Homo sapiens: one gene and its partners. The main gene of each other region encodes a partner of the protein of the gene in region 3 in a complex. Each region holds a gene or a part of one and is shown on either strand. Other genes may lie near its edges. A codon is read from its position in the direction of its gene.

Region 1 (7,259 bases), on a different chromosome or scaffold from region 3:
TTTTGACAAAGCTCAATTTACTTATTTCTCCTTTTGTTGCCTGTGCTTTTGGTGTTGTTATCTAAGAAACCATTGCCTAATTAAAGGTCATAAAAGTTTACTCCTATGTTTTCTTTTATGAGTTTTATAATTCTAGCTTCTGTATTTGGGTCTTGTGTTTTTTTATTGAGAACCACTAGTTGTATTCATACTTCATGCACACTCATTTTGAGAACCACTGGTTTGGGTCACATCTGTCTACAATGGCTAATCACTGTTTTTCCCAAAGACAATCCTCACCCTAAGATAAATTTTTAAGTCATCTGTTAGAATGATGTAAATAATATAACAGCTAAGTAACCTTTACTGAGCACTGGGTATGTGCTAAGCATTTTACATTGTATAACCTTGCTCAATATTCACTATGAGGTTAGTGTTACAATTACTTCCACTTTTTATGATGTAATACACTTCACTGTAAGATGATGCAACACATATATCTCCTTTTATGTAAAAGGGGATACAAAAACCCACATCTTTAAGAAGGAAGGCTGTGCAGACTAAATAAGCTCATGTGTGTTAAGCATATGGTACACTACTTGGCACACAGCAGGGGCTCAAAGGATGAGTGCCCCTCTAATTTCTTCATGATCCCCTCCCCCAAAGGAGACCCTACCCCTTTCACTGGTCCAGAAAGCTATCAGCCCCAGGGTTTATTTTTGCATTCTTTTAGAATCCCACTCCCATTTTTTTCTTTTTCTTTTTTCTTTTTTTTTGAGACAGTCTTGCTCTGTCGCCCAGGCTGGAGTGCAGTGGTGCAATCTCGGCTCACTGCAACCGCCGATCCTCGGGTCGAAGTGACTCTCCTGTCTCAGCCTCCCAAGTAGCTGGGATTACAGGTGCCCGCCACCTTGCCCAGCTAAATTTTTTGTATTTTTAGTAGAGACGGGGTTTCACCATGTTGGCCAGGCTGGTCTCGAACTCCTGACCTCAAGTGATCTGCCTGCCTCGGCCTCCCAAAGTGCTGAGATTACAGGTGTGAGCCACTGCGCCCGGCCATTTTTTTTCTTTTTTCTTTTTTTTTTTTTTTGAGGCAAGGTCTTGCTTTGTCGTACAGGCCTGAGAGCAGCGGCGTGATCTTGGCTCGCTGCAGCTTCAACCTCCCAGGCTCAAGTGATTCTCCCACCTCAGCCTTCCCAGTAGCTGAGACTACAGGCATGCGCCACCATGCCTGGGTAATTCTTATGTTTTCTGTAGAGACAGGTTTCACCATGTTGCCCAGGCTGGTCTCAAACTCCTGGGCTCAAGCAATCCTCCCGCCATGGCCTCTCAAAGTGCTGAGATTACAGGCGTGAGCCACTGCGCCTGGCCCACTCCCCCTTTTCTTTCTCTCATTAAGGTTTGTGATTTTTTTTTTTTTTTTTTGAGACGGAGTCTTGCTCTGTCGCCCAGGCTGGAGTTATGGTTTGTGATTTTACTTATGTTATTCTTTAACTATTTTATCTCTTCAACTGCTTTCCAAGTTACATAAGGGCAAAGGCAGATGGTGCCATTTTGTCACTGCAATATTCCCCAACACCCAATAGAGGGCTTGTGGGAATATAGAGATGTTTGAAAAATGTACACCTGTTCACATCATTTCTGGTTTAAAATTCTCCAATGGCATATGGATTGCACTTTGAATAAAGCCCAAATTCTCAAGCATGGCCAATAGGTCCCTACCTGATTGCCCCCCGTCTCTCCATCCACAGCTTCTTCTATTCTCTCCACTTGAGCCATACTTGTTTTCTTTCTGATCCTCAAACATACCTTGCTCTTTCCCCACTCAGTCCGTTCCTTCTGCTTGGAGGCTCTGATTAATTTCTCATCCTTTAGGTCTCAGCTCAAATATCACCTCTTTCTAGAGTCTTCCCTGATCACCTTGTCTAGTGTTACCACCCTTATTATTACACCAGCAGTTATTCTCAGTCATACACTGTTTCGTTTTCTTTCTTCTCTCTCTTTCTTTTTTTGAGACAGAGTCTGGCTCTGTCGCCCAGGCTGGAGTGCAATGGCGCTATCTTGGCTCGCTGTAGCCTCCGCCTCCCAGGTTCAAGTGATTCTCTTGCCTCAGCCTCCTGAGTAGCTGGGACTGCAGGCACAGGCCACCATGCCTGGCTAATTTTTGTAATTTTAATAGAGACGAGGTTTCACCATGTTGGGCAGGCTGGTTTCAAACTCCTGACCTCAAGTGATCCGGCTGCTTCGGCCTTCCAAAGTGCTGGGATTACAGGCGTGAGCCACTGCGTCCAGCCTGTTTCCTTTTCTTCACAAATATGAAATTTCCTTGCACATTTAATATTATTATTGCTAATATTTAAGCACTTACTATACATTAATTAATGAAGTGTGCTGCTTAATGCTTATCAATGGGCTCTCCAAACCCCAAACCCCTGATTTGTAGTGTTTGCTGATTCCTGTGGTGTAAACACTCGCATTGGGAGGGATTTTCAATCTATCAACCTGAGGAAACTGAACACCACCATTTGGGAAGAGAAAGAGATAGTATTTGCTGTACTGATACAGCGGTGGTAAATAATCTCAAAAGCACATATAAAAAAAAGTGTAGTAAAATAATTAGAAAGTGACGTGTTGAATATGTATTCCGTTGTTTTCAATATAAGTTATTTAACTGTAGGTTTATATGTCTTAATTTTCAAAAATGCCTGTGTTTAAAAGCGACTGGCAAAATTTCTAAGCCTTCCGGCCAGGCACGATGACACAAGCCTGTAATCCCAGCACTTTGGGAGGCCGAGGCAGGCAGGTGGATCGCCTGAAGTCTGGAGTTCGAGACCAGCCTGACCAACATAGAGAAACCCTGTCTCTACTAAAATTACAAAAAATTAGCCGGGCGTGATGGCGCATGCATGTAATCCCAGCTACTCGGGAGGCTGAGGCAGGAGAATCGCTTGAACCTGGGAGTCGGAGGTTGCAGTGAGCTGAGATCGCGCCATTGCACTCCAACCCGGGCAATAAGAGCGAAACTCCGTTTCCAAAACAAAAAAAAAATTTCTAAGCCTTCCTCAACTGTCCCTAGTTAGCCTATAATCAGCACATTTTTCAGCACACAAGGGTTAAGCGACTTGTTGAACTAGCTAATAAATCAGTCTACTACTCCAAAACGCATCTGTAGAACCTAACATAGTGCCTGGAAAATAGTTGGCGTTTAACAAACAACTGCCAGAATAAATTTTTTAAAAAATACACATTTAACACTCTTTAAAAACATAAAAGGTACCAGCCTGGGCAACATGGCGAAACCCCGTCTCTACTAAAAGTACAAAAACTTAGCCGGGTGTGGTGGCGCGCACCTGTGGTCCCAGCTACTCTGGAGCCCGGGAGGTCCAGGCTGCAGTGAGCTGAGATTGCGCCACTGCACTCCAGCCTGGGCGACGGCACTGAGACCCTGTCTCAAAAACAAAAAACATAAACATTTTGGGCAGGGTGCGGTGGCTCACGCCTGTAATCCCAGCATTTTGGGAAGCCGAGGCGGGCGGATCACCTGAGGTCAGGAGTTCGAGACCAACCTGGCCAACATGGTGAAACCCCATCTCTACTAAAAATACAAAAAAAAAAAAAAAAAAAAAATAGCCGCGCGTGGTGGTGGGCGCCTGTCATCCCAGCTACCCAGGAGGCGGAAGTTGCAGTGAGCCAAGATCGCGCCACTGCACTCCAGCCGGACGACAGAGCGAGACTCCGTCTCAAAAAAAATAAAAATAAAAATAAAAATAAACATTTTGGCATTGAAAACATACACGCAAGAGTGAATTTAACATCTGTTTAAAAGTCTCTCACAATCCCAGGAAGGCGACTACTTCCGCTTCTACTTTCAGCAGCGTTTCAGCCCCGCTATAGCGGCGCGGCTTCACAAAACACCTGCGATCGTAGAAGGTTTCGCCCCACCTTCTGCATACGCAGCTTGAGGCGCCCGCTTTCCGTCGCTCCGGCCCGCCTCGCCGCAAGGCTTTCTGGGAGCCGTAGTCCCCACGTCTGGCCTCTCCGGCGCCAGCGGCAGCGCGCGCCCACCCGCGGAACTACAGAGCGTGGCGCACAGCGCGCGAGGCTCCTCCGCCTCGCCTTCCCTCCCCGCCCGCGCGCCCGCCCCAGTTATCATGGCGGCTCCCTTGGTCCTGGTGCTGGTGGTGGCTGTGACAGTGCGGGCGGCCTTGTTCCGCTCCAGTCTGGCCGAGTTCATTTCCGAGCGGGTGGAGGTGGTGTCCCCACTGAGCTCTTGGAAGAGAGGTGAGGCCACTGGCTCGAGCAGACTGTCAGGCCCCACCTGCCCTCCCGCGGCCTCTGTGAATGGGAGGCGGGGGCAGTGACCGCCAGCGCGCGGTTCCTAGAGAACTAACTGACTGTCTCGTGGGGTTCTTGGAGAGGGCGGGGCCTGAGGGCGGGGCTGGTGAGGGGAGGGGGCGTGGGGACCGGGGCGTGGGGACAGTGTCGTGAGGTTTGGGCCCTGGGGGCCGGACCACCTAGTGGTGGGGATCTGAGGGGGCGTGTCCCATTCAGTGTCCTGAGCCGAGGAGTGTGGTCTGTGGGAAGGGTTGGAATAAGAGGAGGAGGTGCTTGTGGAGCGCGGCTTGCAGAGGAGTTTGGGATTTGGGGCGGGATCGCCAGGGGTGCTCCCTGGGATAAAAGGTTATGTGTGAGGGGGTCCGGGATGAGGGGACCAATTTTGCTTAAGCGAGGAGAGTGTGCGTGTGCTTTAGACGTCTCTTCTCAGTCTGGGACTTGCAGGGCAATTTTTGTTACTGTTCCTTACTAAGTTCTTCACCGAACATTGTTTTATACTAACGCCTACAGCGAGAAAGCGAAGTTGGCCTGAAGTAGCTGCACAGGCTAGTGAGGGAGACAAATCGTTATAATAATTCATGAAAAGTATACTTTATGTGTCCACCCAGTTCCTTCCTTAGTATTCTGACCCTGAATAAACTATCCCCTACCTTTCCAGTTTTCCAGAATGTGGGATTTGAGCTGACTCTTGAAGGATGTAGGGTTTTGAAAGGGAGATTAGAGAAAAGGAGAGTTCCAGGTAGCAGAAAGTAAATAGGATGAAGAAACGTTCAAGGATGTGAAATGTCCAAAGCAGGGGAGTAATGGGGTGGAAGCTAGGTTTAGGCCAGAGTTTGATGATTAAAAAAAAACAAACAACTTTTTTTTTTTTTTTTTTACTGAAGTACAGTATACATACAATGCATATTAAGTAAGTGTAGAGTTCAATGAATTTTTAAAAACTGTATTCACTCATGTAGCCAGCACCTAGTTCAAGAAACAGTATCAGCACCCCAGAAGTCCCCTTTGTGTCCTTTAAATGCTAAAGTTTTTTTGTTTTTGTTTTTGTTTTTTGTTTAGAGACAGGGTCTTTCTATGTTGCCCAGGCTGGTCTGGAACTCCTGGACTCAAGCAGTCTCACTTGGCCTCCCAAAGTGCTGGGATTTCAGGCGTGAGCCATGGCACCTGGCCAAGGCTAACGTTTTGATGTTATCCCATAGAATGTTGGTATGGGGAACGGCATAATGAATGGGTGTTTTATGAATAGAGTTAAGGTTTCTAAAAATGGTAACATATACCTTTTCTCATTTAGTCCTCACATTTATTTCTATGTGATAGATGGTGTTATTTTCCCCCTTTTACAGATGAGGGAACTGAAATTTAGAGAAGTTAATTTGCCCAGGTTTCCTAGTTGGGGAATGGTAATAAAGATAGTAATAATTCATGTCTGAGATTGTAAGAGCTTGGATTTGTTACCTCTGCGTATTATTTTTCTGTTGAAATGAATCGAAGCCATTTGGTTCCTGTTTTCTTCTGGATAACTGAAAACCTGAGGCAGTATTAGGCCCTTCTTCCTCTACACCCTACTAAGAGCATTTCTTATCTCATAATTACCTGTTTATATCCGGTTTTTCCACATTTTCTCTCTCTCTCTTTTTTTTTTTTTTTTTTTTTGAGATGGAGTTTCACTCTCATTGCCCTAGCTGGAGTGCAATGGTGCGATCTCGGCTCACCATAACCTCCGCCCCCTGGGTTCAAGCAATTCTTCTGCCTCAGCCTCCTGGGCAGCTGGGATTACAGGCATGCACCACCATGCCTGGCTAATTTTGTATTTTTAGTAGAGACAGGGGTTCTCCATGTTGGTCAGGCTGGTCTTGAACTCCCGACCTCAGGTGATCTGCCTTCCTCGGCCTCCCAAAGTGCTGGGATTACAGGTGTGAGCCGCCATGCCTGGCCTCTTTTTTTTTTTTTTTTTCTTCAAGAGACAGGGTCTCACTCTGACACTCAGGCTGGAGTGCAGTGATAATGGGTCACTGCAGCCTTGACCTCTCGGGCTCAGGACATCCTCCCTCCTCAGCCTCCCAAGTAGTTGGTAGCTGGGACTACAGGCATGTACCACCAACCCTACTTGTTATTATTATTATTTTTTTGTATTTTTTGTAGAGATGGGGTTTCACCATGTTGCTTAGGCTGGTCTCAAACTCCTGGGCTCAAGTGATCCGCCCATCTGGGTCTCTCAAAGTGCTGGGATTACAGGCATAAGCTACCACACCTGGCCTTTTCCACTATATTATGAGCTCCTTGAAGGATTCTGTTTTATTCATTCCTGAATTCTTTTATGTCTGGCATACAGTAGGTGTGTAGTTACTGTTGAATAAATGTGGAAGAGAAGAAAGCATAGGATCTGGTTACTTACAGGAGGTTACTTACAGGATGGACAGGTGAAGGATCCAAAGATGAGACAGTGTTGTTTGGTAATTAAGAGTGCAGGGTCTGGAATCTCAGAAAAGGTTTGACTCTTTCTCTAGTTCTGCAACTTATAAGCTGTATGAATTCTTTTTTTTTTTGAGACAGAATTTTGCTCTTGTTGCCCAGGCTGGAGTGCAATGGCGCGATCTCGGCTCACTGCAACCTCCGCCTCCCAGGTTCAGGCTGTTATCTCGTCTCAGCCTCTTGGGTAGCTGGGATTACAGGTGCCCGCCACCATGCCCAGCTAATTTTTGTATTTTTAGTAGAGATAAGTTTCACCATGTTGGCTAGTCTGGTCTTAAACTCCTGACCTCAGGTGAGCCGCCCGCCTTGACCTGTGAAAGTGCTGGGATTACAGGCATGAGCCACTGCGCCAAGCTTTTTTTGTTGTTGTTGTTTTTGAGATGGAGTCTCAGTCTGTTGCCCAGGCTGGAGTGTAGTGGCATGATCTTGGCTCACTGCAACCTCTGCCTCCCAGGTTCAAGCGATTCTTCTGC
Region 2 (7,200 bases), on a different chromosome or scaffold from region 3:
TCCTTCAAACCCCTGGGTCTGGCCAATGGTGAGATAACCCCTACAGCCCTTTCCTTCTTCCTCTTACCTCCTGCCCAAACCTTTGCCTCCTTTTCCCTCAGTTTCCTGCTTCCTCAGCCTGGGCTAGATCCTAAGTCCCCTGTGTGTGCAGGCCCCCAATACTGTGCCATCTCTGCATGCCTTTTCCCAAGGAGAGAAGGGAGTCCTACTCCCAGTTGGGACTGTCCAGACTGTGGTGCTAGAGGTGGTGTGGGGAGCAGGAGGGTCATTCCCATCTCTGGAATGTGGATCCCGAGGGGTCAGAGCCCAAGGCCCACCCCAGACAGACCTCTGTCTCCCTCAGACACTGACCACTACTTTCTGCGCTATGCTGTGCTGCCGCGGGAGGTGGTCTGCACCGAAAACCTCACCCCCTGGAAGAAGCTCTTGCCCTGTAGTTCCAAGGTGAGGCCGCAGAGCCTGGCAGCCGGGGGCGGGGGGTGTATAGAGAACCTGCGCCCCATGCCAAGTGCTCCATACAGGGCTTCTCTTATCTCTTTCCATCTCCTCCAGGCAGGCCTCTCTGTGCTGCTGAAGGCAGATCGCTTGTTCCACACCAGCTACCACTCCCAGGCAGTGCATATCCGCCCTGTTTGCAGAGTAAGTCATGGGGAGTAGAGGAAGCTGCCATCCAGGGGCTCAGAGAAGGTACATGTAAAGCATGTGGTCAGTGTCTGGCTCAGGCTGAGTGAGTACTGAGTGGTAGATGTGATGACGGTTATTCAGGGCATTGGCCAAGCACCAAGAAAACAGTGGTTGCCTAGCAAGCACTGAATAAATATTTGTCATGGAAAATAGTGGTTCAGAACAATAGCTATGCGGGTGCAATTGCTAGCTCAGTCACTTGCCAGCTGGCGTAACCTTGGGTGAATCATTTCATTCCCCTGAGCTTGGTTTCCCACCCTGCCACATGACATTGATAGTAGAATCCACTCCTAGGGTTGTTGTGATAGTTTATCAAACTGATGCACATACAGCTGTCAGCACGGGGTCTGGCACGAGGTCAAGTGCTCAGGAGTGGGTGGTAGCAAATCGATGGATGTGAAGATACATAGATGAGGGATTGAGTCTGAGTAGGAGTCTTTTTGGGGGCTGTGTGGTGAGAGTGATACCCCCTCACTGCTGCCATCTGGCCCTTGTGATAGAATGCACGCTGTACTAGCATCTCCTGGGAGCTGAGGCAGACCCTGTCAGTTGTATTTGATGCCTTCATCACGGGGCAGGGAAAGAAAGGTAAGTTACCTTGGCAACTCATCTGTACCCACCCATGCCAGCCCTGCCTTATCTATGTGGACTAGGCCTAGGCCTGGCCCCTGCTCAGCCCTGCGCTCTGTTTCTCAGACTGGTCCCTCTTCCGGATGTTCTCCCGAACCCTCACGGAGCCCTGCCCCCTGGCTTCAGAGAGCCGAGTCTATGTGGACATCACCACCTACAACCAGGTAACAAGGTCTCCAGCCACACACACAAACACACCGCTGGTCCCCAGGACCAGCCTACCCTCTCTGCTTGCTTCTTAGCCCTGCCTTTGTGTCCCCAGGACAACGAGACATTAGAGGTGCACCCACCCCCGACCACTACATATCAGGACGTCATCCTAGGCACTCGGAAGACCTATGCCATCTATGACTTGCTTGACACCGCCATGATCAACAACTCTCGAAACCTCAACATCCAGCTCAAGTGGAAGAGACCCCCAGAGAATGGTGAGTGGGTGGTTGGTTGGACTGCTGGGTTGCAACGGCTACAGAGAAAAGACTCACAATCCCACGTCTTTGCCGTTAGATGATTGGGTTGTATTTAGACCAGATTTCCAGAGTCATATGCTGCTGACTGTAGCTATTCCAAGCTCTACGATTTTGGGTAGGTTCCTAAACTCCCCAAGCTTCAGCATCCACATCTGAAAAATAGAGTATACTTAGCAAATTGGATGAGATGATGTGAAAAATGGAGTTAGTTCATGCATTTGCTTAATCAACCAAATACTTTTGAATTCATACTAAGTGCCAGGCATAGAGTGTTGAATAAGACAGAGGACACTGCACTCAAGAAATATAAGTCTACTAGCTAGGGCAGGTGTCAGTTAATTAATTACAGTTGTGTTCAGTTCCCTTACCAAGGGAAAGAGCAGAATATCCTGAGAGGACCTGGATTGGGTTCGAAGGGGGCACGGTGTTCGTCACGTAAGCACTTCAATACTAGCAACCTATTGTCATCATCGCTTGTTGGCTGGGGAAGACAGGGATGATTCCAGAACCCAGATTGCCCAGTTTCAGTGGCAGGGCTGTTCCCCATCTACTCACTGGCTTGGGACTCTGAACATGGCCTGGGCAGGTGGGGTGGGGAGTGATTCTTACCTTTGGCAGCTGTTAACTGTTGATATTTCTTTACACAGAGGCCCCCCCAGTGCCCTTCCTGCATGCCCAGCGGTACGTGAGTGGCTATGGGCTGCAGAAGGGGGAGCTGAGCACACTGCTGTACAACACCCACCCATACCGGGCCTTCCCGGTGCTGCTGCTGGACACCGTACCCTGGTATCTGCGGCTGTATGTGCACACCCTCACCATCACCTCCAAGGGCAAGGAGAACAAACCAAGTGAGGACCTGAGTCCTGAACCAGGCCCCCAGCCCGCCCTCTCATGTCCTCTCCAGGTCCCCCAAACTCTCATTTCCCAGGGTAGTTCCTGAAGTACCTCTGAAAAGCTACACAGGCATAAAGAGTAAGGAATAGTTTCTCAAAACTGGAACGGGAGCCTCACTGTGCCAGGTTCAGAAGTAATTTATAAAACAGCAATAATTAAAACACATAATACTGGTGATTCTTAATAGGACTGTACAAGGACAGTAGCTTCCTTTTTCACTTACTTTTGCCTCCTTTCTGGAGCATTGGGTTTTGTGATGATTCATAGACTCTTTAAGGTAGGGAAAGGGTTTGGCAACGTTAGGCTTTTGAAGCTAGGAAGATAGCAGAGCTGGAGTAGATGGTGTTTTGCTTCCTTGGGAGGGGTAAAGAGGTACAGTTAATTAAATTTTTTTATTTCTATTTTTATTAAAATTTATTTTTATTTTCTATTATTTTTCTAAGGAGAAGATAATATTAGTGCTTCCTATTAGGTGCCAGGCATAGCACTAAAGCACTTGCCTTTCTTTGGTGTAGGGGGAGACTAGTAGTAAAGTAAAAGACCTCTGAGGAAGAGGTTGTACCATATCCCAAACGGCCAAACTTAAAAACCTTTCAGTACTTTAGTTGATTCCTATATTTTCAAACATACGGTGAATAGTTTCACTTATTTTCAGCACCATTATTTGTACCACCTTCAAAATCTCTATTTCAGACATCCTAACTGCATATTCTATAGGTTTTTCTGTTATTATTCTTTTAAATCTTCTCCTTTGGAAAATTTCAAACCCAAACCCAAACAGAATAGTGTAATAATCCCCTGTACACACCCTGCAGCCTTTTTTTTTTTTTTTTAAGAGACAGACTGTTGCTCTGTCAGCTATGCCGGAGTGCAGTGGCATGATCATGGCTCATTGCAGTCTCAGACTGCTCGGCTCAAGCAATCCTCCTACCTCCGCTTCCCTAGGACTACAGGCATGAACCGCCATGCCTTTAATTTTTTCACAGAGGCAGGGTCTTGTTATGTTGCACAGGCTGGTCTCAAACTCCTGGCCTCAAGCGATTCTCCTGCCTCAGTCTCCTAAAGTGCTGGGATTATAGGTGTAAGCCGCTGCCTGCTGGCATATCTTAAAGCAAATCTTAGACATTGCATCAATTAACCTTTAAATACTTTAAGGATTTTTAAAAATGTAACCGTATCATTACCACTTCTGTTTTCCCCTGTGGTCTTAAAAATGTCTTTTTATAATTGGTTTGTTTAAATTGGGATAAACAAGGTTCTCACATTGCATTTGCTTTATACTAAGTTCCTCTCTTGGGTGGGCACAGTGGTGCACACCTGTAATCTCAGCACTTTGGGAGGCCAACACAGAAGGACCACTTGAGTCCAGGAGTTCGAAACCAGCCTGGACAACATTGTGAGGCTCCCCCTACCTATACAAAAAAAATTTTTTTTTTTTTTTTTTTTTTTTTTTGAGACGGATCCTCACTCTGTCACCCAGGCTGGAGTGCAGTGGCGCGATCTTAGCTCACTGCAACCTCCACCTCCCGGGTTCAAGCGATTCTCCTGCCTCCACCTCCCGAGTAGCTGGGACTACAGGCGCGTGCCACCACGCCTGGCTAATTTTTTCTGTTTTTAGTAGAGATGCGGTTTCACTGTGTTAGCCAGGGTGGTCTCGATCTTCTGACCTTGTGATCTGCCCGCCTTGGCCTCCCAAAGTGCTGGGATTAAAATAAATTGTTTTTAATTAGCTGGGGGTGGTGTTGCACGCCTGTAGTCCCAGCTACTCAAGAGGCTGAGGTGGGAGGATCACTTGAACCCAGGAGGTCAAGGCTATAGTGAGCCATGATCATACTATTGCACTTCAGCATGGGCGACAGTGTGAGACCCTGTCACGAAAAAAAAAAAAGTTTCTTTTTCTTTAAAATTACTAGACTATTCTTAGAGCAGTTTTAGGTTTACAGAAAAACTGAGCACAAAGCACAGAGTTCCCATATACTCCCTGTCTCCACACCCAGAATGTCCCTTATTATAAATGTCTTGTCTTTGGTGTGGTACTCTTCAGTCTCTCTTCATCTGTAGCAGTGCCCATGCCTTTTTTTTTTTTTTTTAATGTCATTTATTTGTTGAAGAAACTGGGTCATTTGTTGTGTAGAATGTTCCACATTCTGGGTTTGTCCTTGTGCTAGTGTTTAACACACCCCTCCTCTCCTATATTTCTTGTGTGTTGGTGGTTAGATTTAGAAACCTGATTAGATTCATGTCCCACATTTTTGGCAAGAAAAATTCCCAGGTGGTTCTGTGAACTTCTTCTTGCGTCACATCAGGCACTTGGTGTCTGGTGCCCCAGTTGTAGTGATGTGAAGATTGATTAGCCATCTGCAGCACTCCTAACAACCTCTCTTGATCGCATCCTGGGATCACTGCCCTGGAAACATCCTCTCCCTTTTCTTAGCCCCTGCTTTCTTCCCTTGCCTGCCTGGCTTCTATGCTCCCAAGCCCATCTTCTAGGCACCCAGATTGAGGCTCCATGGCAAGCAGCAGGGACAGGGGCAGCAGGTAGCCTGACCCCAGGAAAGAGATGTGGGTGACCTTGCATGTCTCCAGGTTACATCCACTACCAGCCTGCCCAGGACCGGCTGCAACCCCACCTCCTGGAGATGCTGATTCAGCTGCCGGCCAACTCAGTCACCAAGGTTTCCATCCAGTTTGAGCGGGCGCTGCTGAAGTGGACCGAGTACACGCCAGATCCTAACCATGGCTTCTATGTCAGGTGGGCTCCACCCCCACAGGCCACCTCTCATCCCCCTGACCTACCCTTTCTGCTGCTTACCCCTTGATAGGGCAGCCAGATGGGAACACGGGCCATCTCTCTGCTTCTCTGTAGCCCATCTGTCCTCAGCGCCCTTGTGCCCAGCATGGTAGCAGCCAAGCCAGTGGACTGGGAAGAGAGTCCCCTCTTCAACAGCCTGTAAGTGTGACCACACTCACTGATAACACATCCTCAGCTGCCTGCTGGGCCTTAACACAGGTGACCAGGCTCCTGCAGGGGAGTTCAGGGTAGATGTTACATCTTCCAAAGAGATGTGTAGATTTAATTCAATCCTAATAAAAATCCTGGCAGTCTGTGGAATTTGTGAAGACTTTATAAAATGATTTTAAAGTGCTTCTAGAAGAATACTTTTACTTACAGCCTACATTTACTTCTTGATGCTCTTAAATATTTAATCAAGCACTTATCAAATGCCAAGTGCTTCTGAGAGCACTGAGTGTGCAAGATTAAACAAAACAGACTTGGCCCTGGCCTCCCTTTGCTTACAGTCTAGAAGGAAGATTCTGGTCTAGAGAGTAATGGGGTTAGAGGTTGGGTAGGAATTGATTTACTGGGTTATCTAGGAAGGCTTCATTTAGGAGGTGGCATTTAGGCTGAAACCAGGCTAAGAAAGAAGCAACCAAGCAAAGGCGGGGCCCCTTTCCTCCACCTCAACACCAGGCGTCTCTCTTTCTTTCCTTTCTCTCTCTTTCTTTCTTTCTCTTTCTTTCTTTCTTTCTTTCTTTCTTTCTTTCTTTCTTTCTTTCTTTCTTTCTTTCTTTCTTTCTCTTTCTTTCTTTCTTATTTATTTTTTATTTTACTTTAAGTTCTGGGATACATGTGCAGAACATACAGGTTTGTTACATAGGTATATATGTGCCACGGTGGTTTGCCGTACCCATCAACCCATCATCTAGGTTTTAAGCCCCGCATGCATTAGGTATTTGTCCTAATGCTCTCCCTCCCCTTGCCCCCCGCCCGCCGCTCCCCTTTATCAGGTTTAGAGATTGAGCTATGCCTTCTGTTGAAAGGTTTTGAGCCTAAGAGAACATTGGAAACACTGTGTTGCATTGCCCAATACTGCCGGAATGAGGATGGGGTGAGATGGGGAGGAGCAGCCAGTCCTGTCTCACCGCTCTTCCCCTGACCCCAGGTTCCCAGTCTCTGATGGCTCTAACTACTTTGTGCGGCTCTACACGGAGCCGCTGCTGGTGAACCTGCCGACACCGGACTTCAGCATGCCCTACAACGTGATCTGCCTCACGTGCACTGTGGTGGCCGTGTGCTATGGCTCCTTCTACAATCTCCTCACCCGAACCTTCCACATCGAGGAGCCCCGCACAGGTGGCCTGGCCAAGCGGCTGGCCAACCTTATCCGGCGCGCCCGAGGTGTCCCCCCACTCTGATTCTTGCCCTTTCCAGCAGCTGCAGCTGCCGTTTCTCTCTGGGGAGGGGAGCCCAAGGGCTGTTTCTGCCACTTGCTCTCCTCAGAGTTGGCTTTTGAACCAAAGTGCCCTGGACCAGGTCAGGGCCTACAGCTGTGTTGTCCAGTACAGGAGCCACGAGCCAAATGTGGCATTTGAATTTGAATTAACTTAGAAATTCATTTCCTCACCTGTAGTGGCCACCTCTATATTGAGGTGCTCAATAAGCAAAAGTGGTCGGTGGCTGCTGTATTGGACAGCACAGAAAAAGATTTCCATCACCACAGAAAGGTCGGCTGGCAGCACT
Region 3 (7,144 bases):
GATCCGGGGAGGTCGGGGCCGCGGTGAACTCCAGTTCACCAGGACAGGAAGTGACAGCGGAACGCCGGAAACCGCAGATCCACGGAGGTCAGGGCCGCGGAGAGCTGTAGTTCCCCGGAACCGGAAGTGATGGCGGACCTCCGGAAACCGTAGATTCCGGGCGGTCGGAGCCGCCGGGAGCTGTAGTTCTCCCGCGGCTCAGAGAAGTAGGCAGAGAGCGGACCTGGCGGCCGGGCAGCATGGCGGGGCTGGAGCTCTTGTCGGACCAGGGCTACCGGGTGGACGGGCGGCGCGCCGGGGAGCTGCGCAAGATCCAGGCGCGGATGGGCGTGTTCGCGCAGGCTGACGGCTCGGCCTACATTGAGCAGGGCAACACCAAGGCACTGGCTGTGGTCTACGGCCCGCACGAGGCGAGTGGGCGCGCGGGATGGGGAATCGTGTGGCCGTGGGAGCTGCGGGGCAGCCGGGCTGAGCGCTGGCTCGGGGACTTGAGGGGCAACGGCCGGCGCGCCTCAGTCTACACAGCCGATGCTCAGCACCGCATCTCACTCGGAGTAAACGCAAGTCCTTAGTGTGCTGCGCGGTGGTCCTGCCTTTCTCATCGGCCTCTGTCCCTGCGCCCTCCTTCCTCTTTGCGGCTCTTCAACGTGCTAGGCACTCCCCCACTCGCTCCCTCTCCTTTCAGCTCTACTCCGACGTCACTCCTTCCCAGACGACCTTATTATCCACGCGGTACTTCTCGCCCTACAATAAACCCTTTGTTTTGTGCACCTACAATCTCAAATGCCTATTTTGCTTAAGCATTTTCCCCTTTGTTTCCTCGCTGGAACATAAGCTTCCTAAAGAAAGGAACTTTACATAAAACTATCTGGTTTCATTACTGTGCTTCCAGCGCTGTAACTGCCTGGCCAGCGAAGGTATTGAAAGAGTGTTTGCTTAGCGCATGAGTGTGGGAGCTCTGCTTTCCAGGCGGAGGGAACCAGAAGGGCGAAGACCACGGTGGTGAAAACAAGCAAGGCACTTATGCAGAGCAGAAAGACTGCTGGTGGGGAAAGAGGGGATAACTCCAAATCAGGTTGAGGGTTCCCGGGGAGGTGAGGACTTAGGGTTTTGTAGAGTAGGGAAATGATTTGGGATCTTATTTCATATGTAATGTGAAACCTTTGTAAGGTAGTTAGGATTTGAGTGTGTAGGTGAGACAGAAGCAGCGTTGATGTTTGTAAACTTGGGTTGGCAGGGAATGGGGCAAGGATGGACACAAGGAAGCCAATTAAAAGGTGCCAGAGGGCGACACATGCAAGACAGAGAGCGCAAAACAGGGGGCTTTGTTTTGGAGGTAACGCAGTTGCCCCTTGCTGAGGCATTGAAAGTGGAGGGAGAGGCAGACCCACAGAGGACAGTGGAGTGTGAGCTGGAAGGAGTGGGCCTGGCTCATGTGTCTGTCCTCTTCCAGATCCGGGGCTCCCGGGCTCGAGCCCTGCCGGACAGGGCCCTAGTGAACTGTCAATATAGTTCAGCGACCTTCAGCACAGGTGAGCGCAAGCGACGGCCACATGGGGACCGTAAGTCCTGTGAGATGGGCCTGCAGCTCCGCCAGACTTTCGAAGCAGCCATCCTCACACAGCTGCACCCACGCTCCCAGATTGATATCTATGTGCAGGTGAGCCAGCTGCAGCCGTCAATCCAGGGAGGGAAGGGTGTGATGGGGTTGGGGAGGGAGTCTGATAGACTGACACCCTGGGTTCCCTGCAGGTGCTACAGGCAGATGGTGGGACCTATGCAGCTTGTGTGAATGCAGCCACGCTGGCAGTGCTGGATGCCGGGATACCCATGAGAGACTTTGTGTGTGCGTGCTCAGCTGGCTTCGTGGACGGCACAGCCCTGGCGGACCTCAGCCATGTGGAGGAAGCAGCTGGTGGCCCCCAGCTGGCCCTGGCCCTGCTGCCAGCCTCAGGACAGATTGCGCTGCTTGAGATGGATGCCCGGCTGCACGAGGACCACCTGGAGCGGGTGTTGGAGGCTGCTGCCCAGGCTGCCCGAGATGTGCACACCCTCTTAGATCGAGTGGTCCGGCAGCATGTGCGTGAGGCCTCTATCTTGCTGGGGGACTGACCACCCAGCCACCCATGTCCAGAATAAAACCCTCCTCTGCCCACACACCCCTCACTGTACGTTATCACCTAACAGCACTTCAGAGCCATGTGAAGGCTGGCAGAGCCTGGTCTGGTGCTGGCTCCTGGGGATGATTAGGGACCCTCGCCCACACATGAACGGCCTATCTCTGTGTAGCCTGATTCAAACCCTGAAGAGAACAGTGGATTAGGGGGTTTCTGTAGGGGAGGCCCTGGGTGGAAAAAGCAGCATGTCCCAGTAAGGACTCAAGGCAGCTGAGCAGGAGGCAGGGCCTGGCAAGATGAGCCAGGCCATTAGACTGAGGAATCTGTTACCCTTATTCCAGCACATCGGGGGCCCTGAGCAAAGGGCTGAGGAAGAACTCAGCTGGCTCTGGGTACCCACCCTAGGGATGTGGGGGCCATGTCCCACAACCTCTGGACTATGGTTTGGAGCCCCCTGGGCTTTTCCTGCTGCTTACCTTGGGCTCTGAAAGTACAACAGCCAGGCATGGTGGCTCACGCCTGTAATCCCAGAGCTTTGGGAGGCTGAGGCAGGCGGATTGCTTCAGGTCAGGAGTTTGAGACCAGCCTGGCCAACATGGCGAAACCCCGTCTCTACTAAAAATACAAAATTAGCTGGGAGTGGTGGCACATGCCTGTAATCCAAGCTACTCAGGAGGCTGAGACAGGAGAATCTCTTGAACCTGGGAGGCGGAGGTTGCAGTGAGCCGAGATTGTGCCACTGCACTCCAGCCTGGGCGACAGAGCAAGACTCCATCTAAAAAAAAATAAAAGTACAAAAATTACCTGTTCTCATGGATCACTTGAGGTCAGGAGTTCGAGACCAGCCTGGCCAATGTGGTAAAACCCCATCTCTATTAAAGACACAAAAATTAGTGTGGTGGCAGGCACCTGTAATCCCAGCTACTAGGGAGGCTGGGGCAGGAGAATCACTTGAACCAGGAGTTGAAGGTTGCAGTGAGCCAAGATTACACCACTGCACTCCAGCCTGGGTGACAGAGCAAGACTCTGTCTCAAAAAAAAAACAAAAAAAAACTTGTTCTCACATGGAGTCTTCAGCTTTGACCCTTCTCTCTGCCCACCACTATTTTGTTTGTTGAGACATGGTCTTGCTCTGTGCTCAGGCTGGAGTGCAGTGGTGTGATCACGGCTCACTGCAGTCTGGATCTCCCAGGCTCAAGTGATCCTCCCACTTTAGCCTCCTGAGCTGAGACTACAGGCATGCCCCACTCACCTGGCTAATTTAAAAGGAATTTTTTTGTGTGTACAGACTGGGTCTCATTTCGTTGTCCAGGCTGATCTCAAAGGATCCACCCACCTCACCTTCCCAAAGTGCACCCTCTTGAGCAAACTCCCCCTTCATTCACCTCTGGCCCACCGAGCCCCGACTACCAGTCCCTGCAGTCTGGACCCTGGGACTGCTTCTCCCCTAATATTCCACGGATCTCCTGGCCCGGACAGTGACAGTATGATCCCCCACTTTATAATGCACACACCCCAGCTCCAGTGAAGCCCGTTTTGGCCAGTAGTGCCATCAGCATCTTCTCTGCAGTCATCTGACTCTGAAAACCTCGGTGCTGGGCTCACGCTGTGACTCCACTGGGACGTCCTGAGTCATTGGCAGTCTCGCTTGGCATCCATTCTCTGACCGCCGCCGGCTTTCCACCCACCTGCCCGGCTCATCACCTCTGACTCCTGCGGGCCTTCCAGCCGGCGCTATCTCGCAGCCCCCGACCAGCTCGGCCTGCTGTCGGGCATCTCTGCTGTCCTCCGGCTGTAGGGCTACCTGCCTCCCTCCCGGGGGGTGCACTGCGAGTCCGACTCTAGTGGGGGCAGCGCCTAGCGGACTCCCAAACCCGCTCAGGTCCTGCCGGCCTCACCGGCACCGCCCACCCTCCAGCCGGCCGCGGCTCTGCGCTTGCGCGCCGGCAGCACACAGTGTTAGGGGCGCGCCCTCTGCTCTGGACATGCGCGCCGTCGCGAGCGTCTCTGGGACCGGAAGTGCGGGCGAGCGCGGGTCCCCGGGTCTGACAGGAGCAGCCTGTGGGCACCGCGGCGGTAGTTGGAGGCGGGAGAGGGTCCGTAGCCGCGCCGCCCTGCCCCGCCATGGGCCTCCTGTCGGACCCGGTTCGCCGGCGCGCGCTCGCCCGCCTAGTGCTGCGCCTCAACGCGCCGTTGTGGTGAGGACAGGGCCCGGGGAGGCGGGGACCCGAGGGCCCTGGGCTCGCGCCGGCGGCCCCATGCGCGGTCCCCATCGAGGGCCGGGGCCGCTCCAGCTGCTCGCGCCCCTCCGGCTGCTCGCGCCCTTCCGCTCCTGCCCTCTGGAAGCACTGAGGGTATCAGGCCCAGGCTTAGGGCTCGGGTCCGGCGTCCCGATGCAGGACTCCGGGTTTAGGTCTCCCAGACCCGCGCGATCGACCCCGGGTGCGGAGGTTGTGGCCTCGGGTCGGCGTCTGAGGACCCGCTGACGCTCCGGTGCCCCTCCGTCCTCTCTCACAGCGTGCTGAGCTACGTGGCGGGCATCGCCTGGTTCTTGGCGCTGGTTTTCCCGCCGCTGACCCAGCGCACTTACATGTCGGAGAACGCCATGGGCTCCACCATGGTGGAGGAGCAGTTTGCGGGCGGAGACCGTGCCCGGGCTTTTGCCCGGGACTTCGCCGCCCACCGCAAGAAGTCGGGGTGAGCGGCAGAGCAGGGCGTATGGGGCGAGCAGTGGTGGCTAAGGCCGGGGAGCTCTGCTCAGAGGCTCCCTTCGTGTCTGCAGGGCTCTGCCAGTGGCCTGGCTTGAACGGACGATGCGGTCAGTAGGGCTGGAGGTCTACACGCAGAGTTTCTCCCGGAAACTGCCCTTCCCAGATGAGACCCACGAGCGCTATGTACTGGGGGAGTGGGGTGTGCCTGGGCCCAGAAAGCACCTTGGAGGGAGGGGTCTGGGCTGGGTATCACCTTGCGGGGGTGTCATGGGGCCAGGAAGCTCAGTGGGAGGGAAATCCCTGGTGGGCACTGGAGGGCTAGGAAAGTTGTGGGGGGCCCTTCAGCCCCCTACCACAAAGTTACACTGAGGCTCCCCCCACCGATGCTGCATACAGATGGTGTCGGGCACCAACGTGTACGGCATCCTGCGGGCCCCGCGTGCTGCCAGCACCGAGTCGCTTGTGCTCACCGTGCCCTGTGGCTCTGACTCTACCAACAGCCAGGCTGTGGGGCTGCTGCTGGCACTGGCTGCCCACTTCCGGGGTGAGTCTCAGGGCTGCTGGCCGTGGAGGGGTTTGGTCAGTGCCCCAGACCCTGCTGATCCTGCTTCTGGCCTCCAGGGCAGATTTATTGGGCCAAAGATATCGTCTTCCTGGTAACAGAACATGACCTTCTGGGCACTGAGGCTTGGCTTGAAGCCTACCACGATGTCAATGTCACTGGTAGGTTCTCTTGTCCTGCCTGCCCTGGTCCCCCTCTCAGGGTCACTGTCCTCACCACGTCCTCCATTAGCACTCATTCACTTGCTCCTACAGGCATGCAGTCGTCTCCCCTGCAGGGCCGAGCTGGGGCCATTCAGGCAGCCGTGGCCCTGGAGCTGAGCAGTGATGTGGTCACCAGCCTCGATGTGGCCGTGGAGGGGCTTAACGGGCAGCTGCCCAACCTTGACCTGCTCAATCTCTTCCAGACCTTCTGCCAGAAAGGGGGCCTGTTGTGCACGCTTCAGGGCAAGGTGGGGCTGCCTGCCTGCCTGAGGGCTGAAGGGCACAGGGTCTGTGGGAGGGGCTGTCTCATCCTGTCCTGCACCTCTAAAGCTGCAGCCCGAGGACTGGACATCATTGGATGGACCGCTGCAGGGCCTGCAGACACTGCTGCTCATGGTTCTGCGGCAGGCCTCCGGCCGCCCCCACGGCTCCCATGGCCTCTTCCTGCGCTACCGTGTGGAGGCCCTAACCCTGCGTGGCATCAATAGCTTCCGCCAGTACAAGTATGACCTGGTGGCAGTGGGCAAGTAAGTAGTCTCTGGTCCCCCCTTTCCATGCCCAGGATGGGGTCTAGCTGGAGCGGAGTGGGGGATGGCCTGGTGGCTCTGGCCAGCCGTGAACCTGCCCCACACCTGACAGGGCTTTGGAGGGCATGTTCCGCAAGCTCAACCACCTCCTGGAGCGCCTGCACCAGTCCTTCTTCCTCTACTTGCTCCCCGGCCTCTCCCGCTTCGTCTCCATCGGCCTCTACATGCCCGCTGTCGGCTTCTTGCTCCTGGTCCTTGGTCTCAAGATATCCTCTGCCCCTTGCCATCTACCTGTGACCAGCCTCCAGTCTCCTCAACTCTAGGCTGGGGAGAGTCTTCCATCCTGATGGGGGGTGGGGTACGGGGGTGAGCCCTGGGTCCCCCTCTGGGCAGATCCCGTTACACCTCTTGTTGGGGTCCTTGATTGGGCTACGCTCTGGAACTGTGGATGCAGCTGCATGAGGCTGGAATGGGCCTTGAGGAGCCCGGGGGTGCCCCTGGCCCCAGTGTACCCCTTCCCCCATCACAGGTGATGGCACCCCCTTCTGTTGTTGGAATGGGCTTCTGGGGTCTGACTGGTGTTTAGTGTTGCAACTTAGCCTCAGCTGGTGGGATGGTGGTGGTCTTTGGGGATCCCCTGGCCCCAGGGTCCATCTCCAAGAGCCTGTGTGCCCTGCAGGGTGTGGGGCTGGCCTCGCTCGTGGCACCTCTGCTGATCTCACAGGCCATGGGACTGGCCCTCTATGTCCTGCCAGTGCTGGGCCAACACGTTGCCACCCAGCACTTCCCAGTGGCAGAGGCTGAGGCTGTGGTGCTGACACTGCTGGCGATTTATGCAGCTGGCCTGGCCCTGCCCCACAATACCCACCGGTAAGAGGCTGGGCTGGTTGTTGGGGGCAGGGGTAGAGGTCCCCTGGACATGCAGACAGCTTGTGGGTTGCCTCTGAGTCCTTTGTCTTACAGGGTGGTAAGCACACAGGCCCCAGACAGGGGCTGGATGGCACTGAAGCTGGTAGCCCTGATC
Region 4 (7,421 bases), on a different chromosome or scaffold from region 3:
GGATGAGAAAAGGGAAGCTGGAAAGGCCAGGACTTTTGCCTACCTCAACAAGGGACCAAGTTCAGTGAAAGAAGGGTTGGCATCCTTGATTGGGCAGCAGATTTATCAGAAGAGCTGTGGCTTCAGGGCTGCTCACCTCCCCACCCCCACCCTGCATCTTTCCCCAGGGCTGGGAAGGATGCCTACCAGGGACAAAAGGAGATGTGGGAACTGGAGCCCTAAGCTTGCTAGCTGTCAGAAGGACTGGTGCCACTTGATGCCCAGGACTCATGCCAAGGACTGCTGCCCTGTTCCCAGCCCCTTGCTTGATGGGGAGGCCATTTGGCCCATCTGGCCAGGAGAGGCAGCAGAGGGTGAGGTCTGGCTTTTTTATCTTGTCTCCACTCCAGGGAGCTGTCACCATGCCTCACTCGTACCCAGCCCTTTCTGCTGAGCAGAAGAAGGAGTTGTCTGACATTGCCCTGCGGATTGTAGCCCCGGGCAAAGGCATTCTGGCTGCGGATGAGTCTGTAGGTAAGTGGACATCTGTAGCCAGGTAGGGTACAGGTGGCTAGGGGACCCTGGGGATGTTCTCACTGCCTCTCTTTGTTTGCCCCTAGGCAGCATGGCCAAGCGGCTGAGCCAAATTGGGGTGGAAAACACAGAGGAGAACCGCCGGCTGTACCGCCAGGTCCTGTTCAGTGCTGATGACCGTGTGAAAAAGTGCATTGGAGGCGTCATTTTCTTCCATGAGACCCTCTACCAGAAAGATGATAATGGTGTTCCCTTCGTCCGAACCATCCAGGATAAGGGCATCGTCGTGGGCATCAAGGTGCAGCCCCTGGCCCTGCTCTGAATGGAAGCTGGGTGTGAAAATAAGCTTGTGTAGGAGGGGTAGCAAGGAGAATCCTGCCTGGATTCAACCCTCTGCTTGTACTTCCTCTACAGGTTGACAAGGGTGTGGTGCCTCTAGCTGGGACTGATGGAGAAACCACCACTCAAGGTATAGGATGGGTGGGCTTGAGGACCAAAGAGGTGTTAGATAGTTGATGCTGGTAAAAGAGGGGCAGAGTAATGAGGTTGGCACTGTGCTTGCAGGGCTGGATGGGCTCTCAGAACGCTGTGCCCAATACAAGAAGGATGGTGCTGACTTTGCCAAGTGGCGCTGTGTGCTGAAAATCAGTGAGCGTACACCCTCTGCACTTGCCATTCTGGAGAACGCCAACGTGCTGGCCCGTTATGCCAGTATCTGCCAGCAGGTGTGTGTGTTGGGAGGGTGGTGAGCTAGGTGCCCTGTATGCCTGGTGGGGAGAGAGTCACAAGGCTTTCTTCATCTCCCCTACTGCCCCTCCCAAGCATCTCTGCTCTTGCCTGCAGAATGGCATTGTGCCTATTGTGGAACCTGAAATATTGCCTGATGGAGACCACGACCTCAAACGTTGTCAGTATGTTACAGAGAAGGTGAGTCCACACCTGGGCACACAAACATACTGCAGGGACAGCTCGGCAGGAGTGTCTGTTCCCCAGAACCCCCAGCTTAGATCCAGGCACACTTTCCCCTAGCACTTTTTCACTTCATCCCGGCACAGGCCTGTGATCTGAGCCTGTACTGAGCCCTCACAGTCTGTGCCCATCTACCCCTACATAGGGAGCATCGAGCAGTAACCAGTGGGGGCCCAGACCCTTAGTAAACCTCCTCTAATCCCCACCCAGGTCTTGGCTGCTGTGTACAAGGCCCTGAGTGACCATCATGTATACCTGGAGGGGACCCTGCTCAAGCCCAACATGGTGACCCCGGGCCATGCCTGTCCCATCAAGTATACCCCAGAGGAGATTGCCATGGCAACTGTCACTGCCCTGCGTCGCACTGTGCCCCCAGCTGTCCCAGGTACTACCCAGCTCCCTAACCTGCTCCTATCCCTAAGGCCCATCTTCAGGTCCTTCTTGTGGCCTTCAGGGGTTCCCTATCCTGGAAAAATTGGGAGTGACCAGTCAGTTTGTCTTCTCTCCTCCACACTAGGAGTGACCTTCCTGTCTGGGGGTCAGAGCGAAGAAGAGGCATCATTCAACCTCAATGCCATCAACCGCTGCCCCCTTCCCCGACCCTGGGCGCTTACCTTCTCCTATGGGCGTGCCCTGCAAGCCTCTGCACTCAATGCCTGGCGAGGGCAACGGGACAATGCTGGGGCTGCCACTGAGGAGTTCATCAAGCGGGCTGAGGTTGGGAGCTACAGGTGGTGGTGGGTGGGGGCAGCACCCAGAGGCTATAGCCTGGGCAGGGCTTGGCACCTGTGGGCTGGCTCAGCCTGCTTACTCCACGCTCCCTTTTGCAGGTGAATGGGCTTGCAGCCCAGGGCAAGTATGAAGGCAGTGGAGAAGATGGTGGAGCAGCAGCACAGTCACTCTACATTGCCAACCATGCCTACTGAGTATCCACTCCATACCACAGCCCTTGGCCCAGCCATCTGCACCCACTTTTGCTTGTAGTCATGGCCAGGGCCAAATAGCTATGCAGAGCAGAGATGCCTTCACCTGGCACCAACTTGTCTTCCTTTCTCTCTTCCCTTCCCCTCTCTCATTGCTGCACCTGGGACCATAGGATGGGAGGATAGGGAGCCCCTCATGACTGAGGGCAGAAGAAATTGCTAGAAGTCAGAACAGGATGGCTGGGTCTCCCCCTACCTCTTCCAGCTCCCACAATTTTCCCATGATGAGGTAGCTTCTCCCTGGGCTCTCCTTCTTGCCTGCCCTGTCTCCTGGGATCAGAGGGTAGTACAGAAGCCCTGACTCATGCCTTGAGTACATACCATACAGCAAATAAATGGTAGCAAAACATTCTACTTTGCCTGTCTGTTTTACACATCAAATTCCCACCTCCCAGTTTCTGATCTCTGCTAATTCTATCTCTGGGCCCTCTGACTCTGGAGGTGGAGAGGGTGGGATTTGAGTCTTACTGGGCTTCAAGTTATGGAGGAAGGGCACATGCAGTCACCATCCCCAGCTCAGGCTCTTGCTCTCTTGATGTCCAAGTCTGGAGTGGGGCAATGAGGAAGACTGCAAGTCTTCTAGGGACTGCCACATCAGTGGCACTGGGCTGCAGCTACAGAAGTATGGAGTGAGGCCAAACTGGCAACTCCTGAAGGCAGATTTGTGCAAGGCTCAAAGCAGGGAGGCAGCAAGACAGGCTGGGATAAGAGTGGGTGGGAGTCTCTCCCATCTCGCAGTGTTAAGCCCAGCTGGGACCTGGTACCTTCCACTAGGGTGAGCCACACCAGTAAGGGCAAGCGAGCACCTGGACTCCCGCCCAAAGAGGAAAACCAAGGCTCTGCGGGCTGCCAGGGCTGAGCAGGGCATCTAGGAGGTTGCCAAGGGCTATGGCCCATTTTCATTTGGGGTAGAAGTGGGCACAAAGGGAGCCAATTGGAGGGTCTGGGTAAGGACAGCTCTGGTGAGGCCTGATGCTGAACTTTAACCACTGGGCTGGGTTGTGAGGTAGGCTGAGAACCTGGGTCTAAGCAGATAAAAAGAAGAGATAACAAGCTGCGTGTGTTCTGTGTCAACTGGGGAGGCTACAAATGCTCCACCCTGTGTGGCCTGACTTTATAATAACAAAAATAGCTTGCACATAGCACCAACCCTGTTCTAATCACTTTATATGTACTGACACATTTCATACAACTCTATAAAGTAGGTACTATTACTATCATCCCTATTTTAATAGAGAAAACAGGCACAGATAGGCACAGAACGATCTTCTCACGATCACTCACCTAATAAGTGATGAAGCCAGGATTTGAACCGCAGTGATCAGCATCTAGAGTCTGGGCTCATGACTTTTCAAGATTTTTAAGTGAAGTATTCTGAGTTTTCCAAGTTGGAAATGAATTAAAACGTATTTTAAAATAGCGAGAGAGCCAATTGTGCTAAAACATACTAGCTTGCTACCTCCGTGTTTGAGGCTTTGAGGAGAGGGCACCCTAAGAGGAGTTCTACGATAAGGATAATAAGACCGTGACAGTTGACGTTGAGGGCTTTCCGTGTGCCAGGCTCCTTACAAGAACGGCCTCATTTATGTAAATATCTCCATTTTCAGATGAGCCTCGGAGCTGCCTGTAGTTGCCCAGCTAGTATTTAAGGACTGCAGAGGTTGCGCTCTTGATTGCGGGGCTAGAAGTGTGTTCTACAGGGAAGCGGGGAACTTCGTTCCAGCAGCGCCGAAACCCGCACGGCCCCTAGGCTGTCCCTCCGCGCCCGGGTGACTTCCTTTCAGATCCCCAGCGAAGCTCCCAGCGGAGCCCTCCCACCCCTCGCCCGCTTGCTCCCGTCTGCGGGTCTGGAGTAGCGCTCGCGATTGGCCCCGATCACCGCCGCGGTCCTGCCCCCTCGTTGCAGAGATTCCGATTGGGTGAGGCTCACGAAGCTCTGCCCCCACGGTGGCCGGAGCAGCCGGAAGCTAGCATGGCGGCCGCCGGGGCTGCGGCTACACACCTAGGTGCGGTGGGCTTCGGGTGGGGGGCCTGCAGCTAGCTGATGGCAAGGGAGGAATAGCAGGGGTGGGGATTGTGGTGTGCGAGAGGTCCCGCGGACGGGGGGCTCGGGGGTCTCTTCAGACGAGATTCCCTTCAGGCTTGGGCCGGGTCCCTTCGCACGGAGATCCCAATGAACGCGGGCCCCTGGAGGCCGGTGGTTGGGGCTTCTCCGCGTCGGGGATGGGGCCGGTACCCTAGCCCGTTTCCAGCGCCTCAGTCGGTTCCCCATGCCCTCAGAGGTGGCCCGGGGCAAGCGCGCCGCCCTCTTCTTCGCTGCGGTGGCCATCGTGCTGGGGCTACCGCTCTGGTGGAAGACCACGGAGACCTACCGGGCCTCGTTGCCTTACTCCCAGATCAGTGGCCTGAATGCCCTTCAGGTGAGACTGCTGTGCGGGAGGGTCGGGGGACAGCCCCCCCGGCAAGGTGGAGACTCAGTGACGGCCCTGATGCTCCTTCCTGTAGCTCCGCCTCATGGTGCCTGTCACTGTCGTGTTTACGCGGGAGTCAGTGCCCCTGGACGACCAGGAGAAGCTGCCCTTCACCGTTGTGCATGAAAGAGAGATTCCTCTGAAATGTGAGTTACTGGGGATCAGGGCTGCTTTTCGCCTCTGAGCTCAGTTCAGAGCTGAGTTGGGTGGGAGGAGCGGGGGTGTACCATAAACGCAGTTAAAAACTTACTGTTGAAAGACCTCTGAATGAACAGTGTGTTTGGTCAGAAAAAAACTACTTTCAAATTCACAGTCACTAAATAGCAATTTTACTCGTAAGACAGGCTACCTAATCGGAAGCAGTTGATGCCCATCAGGGTATAGGGGAAGAGGTGGGATATAGTGGAAAGAACACAGAGTTTGAAATTAAATTGGATTTGCATATAGGCCCTATTTAGTTTGTTTGTTTATTTATTTATTATATTTTGAGACGGAGCTTCGCTCTGTCGCCCAGGCTGGAGTGCAGTGGCGCCATCTTGGCTCACTGCAACCTCTGCCTCCTGGGTTCAAGCGATTCTTCTGCACCAGCCACCCGAGTAGCTGGGATTACAGGCGCGCGACACTACGCCCAGCTAATTTTTGTATTTTTAGTAGAGACGGGGTTATGCCATGTTGGCCATGCTGCTCTCGAACTCCTGACTTCAGGTGATCCGCATGCCTCAGCCTCCCAAAGTGTTGGGATTACAGGCGTGAGCCACCGCGCCCAGCCCCTATTCAGTTTAACATTAAACACTTTACTGGGGTACTTTTTTTTAGGTACCAAGAATTTAGGAATGAATAAGAAATTGATAATGGTTTCAAGATGTTCATAGGTAGGGGAGAAAGATAAAATAAATTACAGTAGAAGTATACAAGAAACAGAGATTGCACTTAGTAAAGAGTATTAACCATCTGGGAGGAAAGAAAGGCAGAGAAAGTTTTGAGAGATGTAATTCTTAAGTCGGATTTTTAAAGGATGTGTAGGAATTCAGGTTAAGTGGGAAAAGGAGGGAGAGAATTTCAGGCAAAGTTAATAGCATGAGACAGTATAAGGATAGCTGATAGTTGTTGCTCGCTGTGTGCCAGAAACTAGGTGAAGCATTTTATATGTGTTGCCTCATTTAATCCTTTCTAATGATATGATCCCCATTTTATAAATGAAGAAACTGAGCCTTAGAGAATTTAACTTGTGCAAGGTCACACAGCTAGTAAGAGATGGAACTGGGATTTAAATCCAGGCCTGACTGATTCCAGTGTTCAAGCTTTTAACCAACAAACTATACTCCTGTGTGAAAGTGTGGCGGGGTGAATCAGCATATTGGGGGACCTATGAGCAGTTTTGCCTTACTGGAATGTGTAGTGAAAGACTGGGAATGACTGGAGATTTGGGCTGAGTCTAGAGCATGAGGCATCTGTGTGCCATTTACTTTTTTAGTTCTTTAGCCTTGGTGAAAACTTTTCTTTTCTTTTTTTTTTTTTTTTTTGAGAAAGGGTCTCTCTTTGTTGCCCAGGCTGGAGTATGGTGGCACGATCAGGGCCCACTGCAGCCTTGACCTATTGGGCTCAAGCGATCCTCCCATCTCAGCCCACCTGCCTTAATAGCTGGGACTACAGCCGCACACCATCACACCCAGCTGATTTGTTTTGGTATTTTTAGTAGAGATAGGGTTTCGCCATGTTGCCCAGGCTGGTCTCGAGCTCCTGGGCTCAAGTGATCAGCCTCCCAAAGTGCTGGGATTACAAGTGTGAGCCACCGCACCCGGCTGGTTAAAACATTTTTTTAAAAAAATGATATTTCGTATGGTTCAGCCTCTGTACACACACAAACTTCTGGTTTTCTTTCTTTTTTTTTTTTTTTTTTGAGATGGAGTTTCGCTCTTGTTGCCCAGGCTGGAGCGCAATGGCACGATTTTGGCTCACTGCAACCTCTGCCTCCTGGGTTCAAACGATTCTTCTGGCTCAGCCTCTGAAGTAGCTGGGATTACAGGCGCCTGCCACCACGCCCAGCTAATTTTTTGCATTTTTAGTAGATACGGGGTTTCACCATGTTGGCTAGGCTGGTCTCAAACTCCTGACCTCCAGTGATCCACCAGCCTCGGCCTCCCAAAGTGCTGGGATTACAGGCGTGAGCCACCATGCCCAGCCAAACTTCTTGTTTTCTAAACAAAAATTGGACTATCCCTCACAAGTTAGTTTGAAATTTGATTGTTTTCAGTTTATCATGGATTTCTTCATATTTGATAACACAGTGTTCAGTAATATGGGTATACTGTAAACGTATAGTATAGGCAACACGTATAAAGGGTGACCAAGAGTATAGAATCTGGGATCAGAGAGCTGGAATTCAAGCCTTATTCTGCCACTTATTTGTGTAAATTTGAGTAAGGTTGTTAACTTCTCTAAACCTTGGTTTCCTCATCTGTTAGACGGAAATAGTAATAGCGTT

Evidence for each region.
Region 1: the proteins of GPAA1 (region 3) and PIGU are in contact, whole or in part, in a cryo-EM structure (PDB 8IMX), measured with the Homo sapiens proteins. Residues at the interface, in NP_003792.1 of Homo sapiens: Gln245 (codon at 5,761), Leu310 (codon at 6,038), Arg311 (codon at 6,041), Arg313 (codon at 6,047), Phe358 (codon at 6,294), Leu359 (codon at 6,297), Ile371 (codon at 6,333), Ala389 (codon at 6,554), Leu390 (codon at 6,557), Trp393 (codon at 6,566), His397 (codon at 6,578), Leu500 (codon at 7,130), Ile504 (codon at 7,142), Leu508, Cys512, Leu515, Thr516; in NP_536724.1 of Homo sapiens: Tyr349, Ile355, Phe356, Cys360, Ile363, Val364, Leu367, Leu368, Val371, Leu372, Leu375, Ile377, Tyr378, Ala379, Gly380, Ser381, Phe386.
Region 2: the proteins of GPAA1 (region 3) and PIGT are in contact, whole or in part, in a cryo-EM structure (PDB 7W72), measured with the Homo sapiens proteins. Residues at the interface, in NP_003792.1 of Homo sapiens: Arg97 (codon at 4,934), Ser98 (codon at 4,937), Val99 (codon at 4,940), Gly100 (codon at 4,943), Glu102 (codon at 4,949), Tyr104 (codon at 4,955), Arg134 (codon at 5,258), Ala135 (codon at 5,261), Pro136 (codon at 5,264), Arg137 (codon at 5,267), Ala138 (codon at 5,270), Ala139 (codon at 5,273), Ser140 (codon at 5,276), Thr141 (codon at 5,279), Glu142 (codon at 5,282), Arg171 (codon at 5,369), Gly172 (codon at 5,372), Gln173 (codon at 5,452), Ile174 (codon at 5,455), Tyr199 (codon at 5,530), His200 (codon at 5,533), Asp201 (codon at 5,536), Val202 (codon at 5,539), Leu212 (codon at 5,662), Gln213 (codon at 5,665), Gly214 (codon at 5,668), Arg215 (codon at 5,671), Ala218 (codon at 5,680), Arg311 (codon at 6,041), Tyr312 (codon at 6,044); in NP_057021.2 of Homo sapiens: Gln91, Gly92, Phe93, Arg95, Arg97, Tyr98, Ser108, Phe211 (codon at 589), His212 (codon at 592), Thr213 (codon at 595), Ser214 (codon at 598), Asp247 (codon at 1,242), Phe249 (codon at 1,248), Ile250 (codon at 1,251), Arg340 (codon at 1,727), Gln355 (codon at 2,461), Tyr357 (codon at 2,467), Val358 (codon at 2,470), Ser359 (codon at 2,473), Gly360 (codon at 2,476), Tyr361 (codon at 2,479), Gly362 (codon at 2,482), Leu363 (codon at 2,485), Leu371 (codon at 2,509), Tyr373 (codon at 2,515), Lys441 (codon at 5,351), Asp459 (codon at 5,405), Pro460 (codon at 5,408), Asn461 (codon at 5,411), His462 (codon at 5,414).
Region 4: GPAA1 (region 3) and PIGS share a complex: the UniProt entries of both Homo sapiens proteins name them as parts of the GPI-anchor transamidase complex.

What each region holds. Positions count from the first base shown.
Region 1 is NC_000020.11:34,673,957-34,681,215, reverse strand, and holds the start of PIGU (GPI-anchor transamidase component PIGU), read left to right. Parts: upstream 1-4,123; 5' UTR 4,124-4,130; coding exon 4,131-4,260; intron 4,261-7,259. UniProt on the Homo sapiens protein: Component of the glycosylphosphatidylinositol-anchor (GPI-anchor) transamidase (GPI-T) complex that catalyzes the formation of the linkage between a proprotein and a GPI-anchor and participates in GPI anchored protein biosynthesis.
Region 2 is NC_000020.11:45,418,952-45,426,151, forward strand, and holds part of PIGT (GPI-anchor transamidase component PIGT isoform 1 precursor), read left to right. Parts: coding exon 1-28; intron 29-343; coding exon 344-444; intron 445-521; exon of another isoform or gene 522-552; coding exon 553-639; intron 640-1,184; coding exon 1,185-1,272; intron 1,273-1,380; coding exon 1,381-1,478; intron 1,479-1,576; coding exon 1,577-1,742; intron 1,743-2,431; coding exon 2,432-2,632; intron 2,633-5,264; coding exon 5,265-5,430; intron 5,431-5,544; coding exon 5,545-5,628; intron 5,629-6,558; exon of another isoform or gene 6,559-6,622; coding exon 6,623-6,875; 3' UTR 6,876-7,200. UniProt on the Homo sapiens protein: Component of the glycosylphosphatidylinositol-anchor (GPI-anchor) transamidase (GPI-T) complex that catalyzes the formation of the linkage between a proprotein and a GPI-anchor and participates in GPI anchored protein biosynthesis.
Region 3 is NC_000008.11:144,078,490-144,085,633, forward strand, and holds the start of GPAA1 (GPI-anchor transamidase component GPAA1), read left to right. Parts: upstream 1-4,144; 5' UTR 4,145-4,241; coding exon 4,242-4,315; intron 4,316-4,634; coding exon 4,635-4,814; intron 4,815-4,899; coding exon 4,900-5,011; intron 5,012-5,224; coding exon 5,225-5,372; intron 5,373-5,449; coding exon 5,450-5,551; intron 5,552-5,644; coding exon 5,645-5,841; intron 5,842-5,923; coding exon 5,924-6,120; intron 6,121-6,232; coding exon 6,233-6,386; intron 6,387-6,553; coding exon 6,554-6,649; intron 6,650-6,799; coding exon 6,800-6,990; intron 6,991-7,083; coding exon 7,084-7,144. Other genes in the region: EXOSC4 (exosome complex component RRP41), read left to right, coding at 240-410, 1,454-1,660, 1,753-2,112. UniProt on the Homo sapiens protein: Component of the glycosylphosphatidylinositol-anchor (GPI-anchor) transamidase (GPI-T) complex that catalyzes the formation of the linkage between a proprotein and a GPI-anchor and participates in GPI anchored protein biosynthesis. Binds GPI-anchor.
Region 4 is NC_000017.11:28,568,513-28,575,933, reverse strand, and holds the start of PIGS (GPI-anchor transamidase component PIGS), read left to right. Parts: upstream 1-4,409; 5' UTR 4,410-4,437; coding exon 4,438-4,471; intron 4,472-4,745; coding exon 4,746-4,885; intron 4,886-4,970; coding exon 4,971-5,082; intron 5,083-7,421. Other genes in the region: ALDOC (fructose-bisphosphate aldolase C), read left to right, coding at 402-513, 600-811, 928-982, 1,078-1,238, 1,357-1,440, 1,693-1,867, 2,000-2,199, 2,313-2,408. UniProt on the Homo sapiens protein: Component of the glycosylphosphatidylinositol-anchor (GPI-anchor) transamidase (GPI-T) complex that catalyzes the formation of the linkage between a proprotein and a GPI-anchor and participates in GPI anchored protein biosynthesis.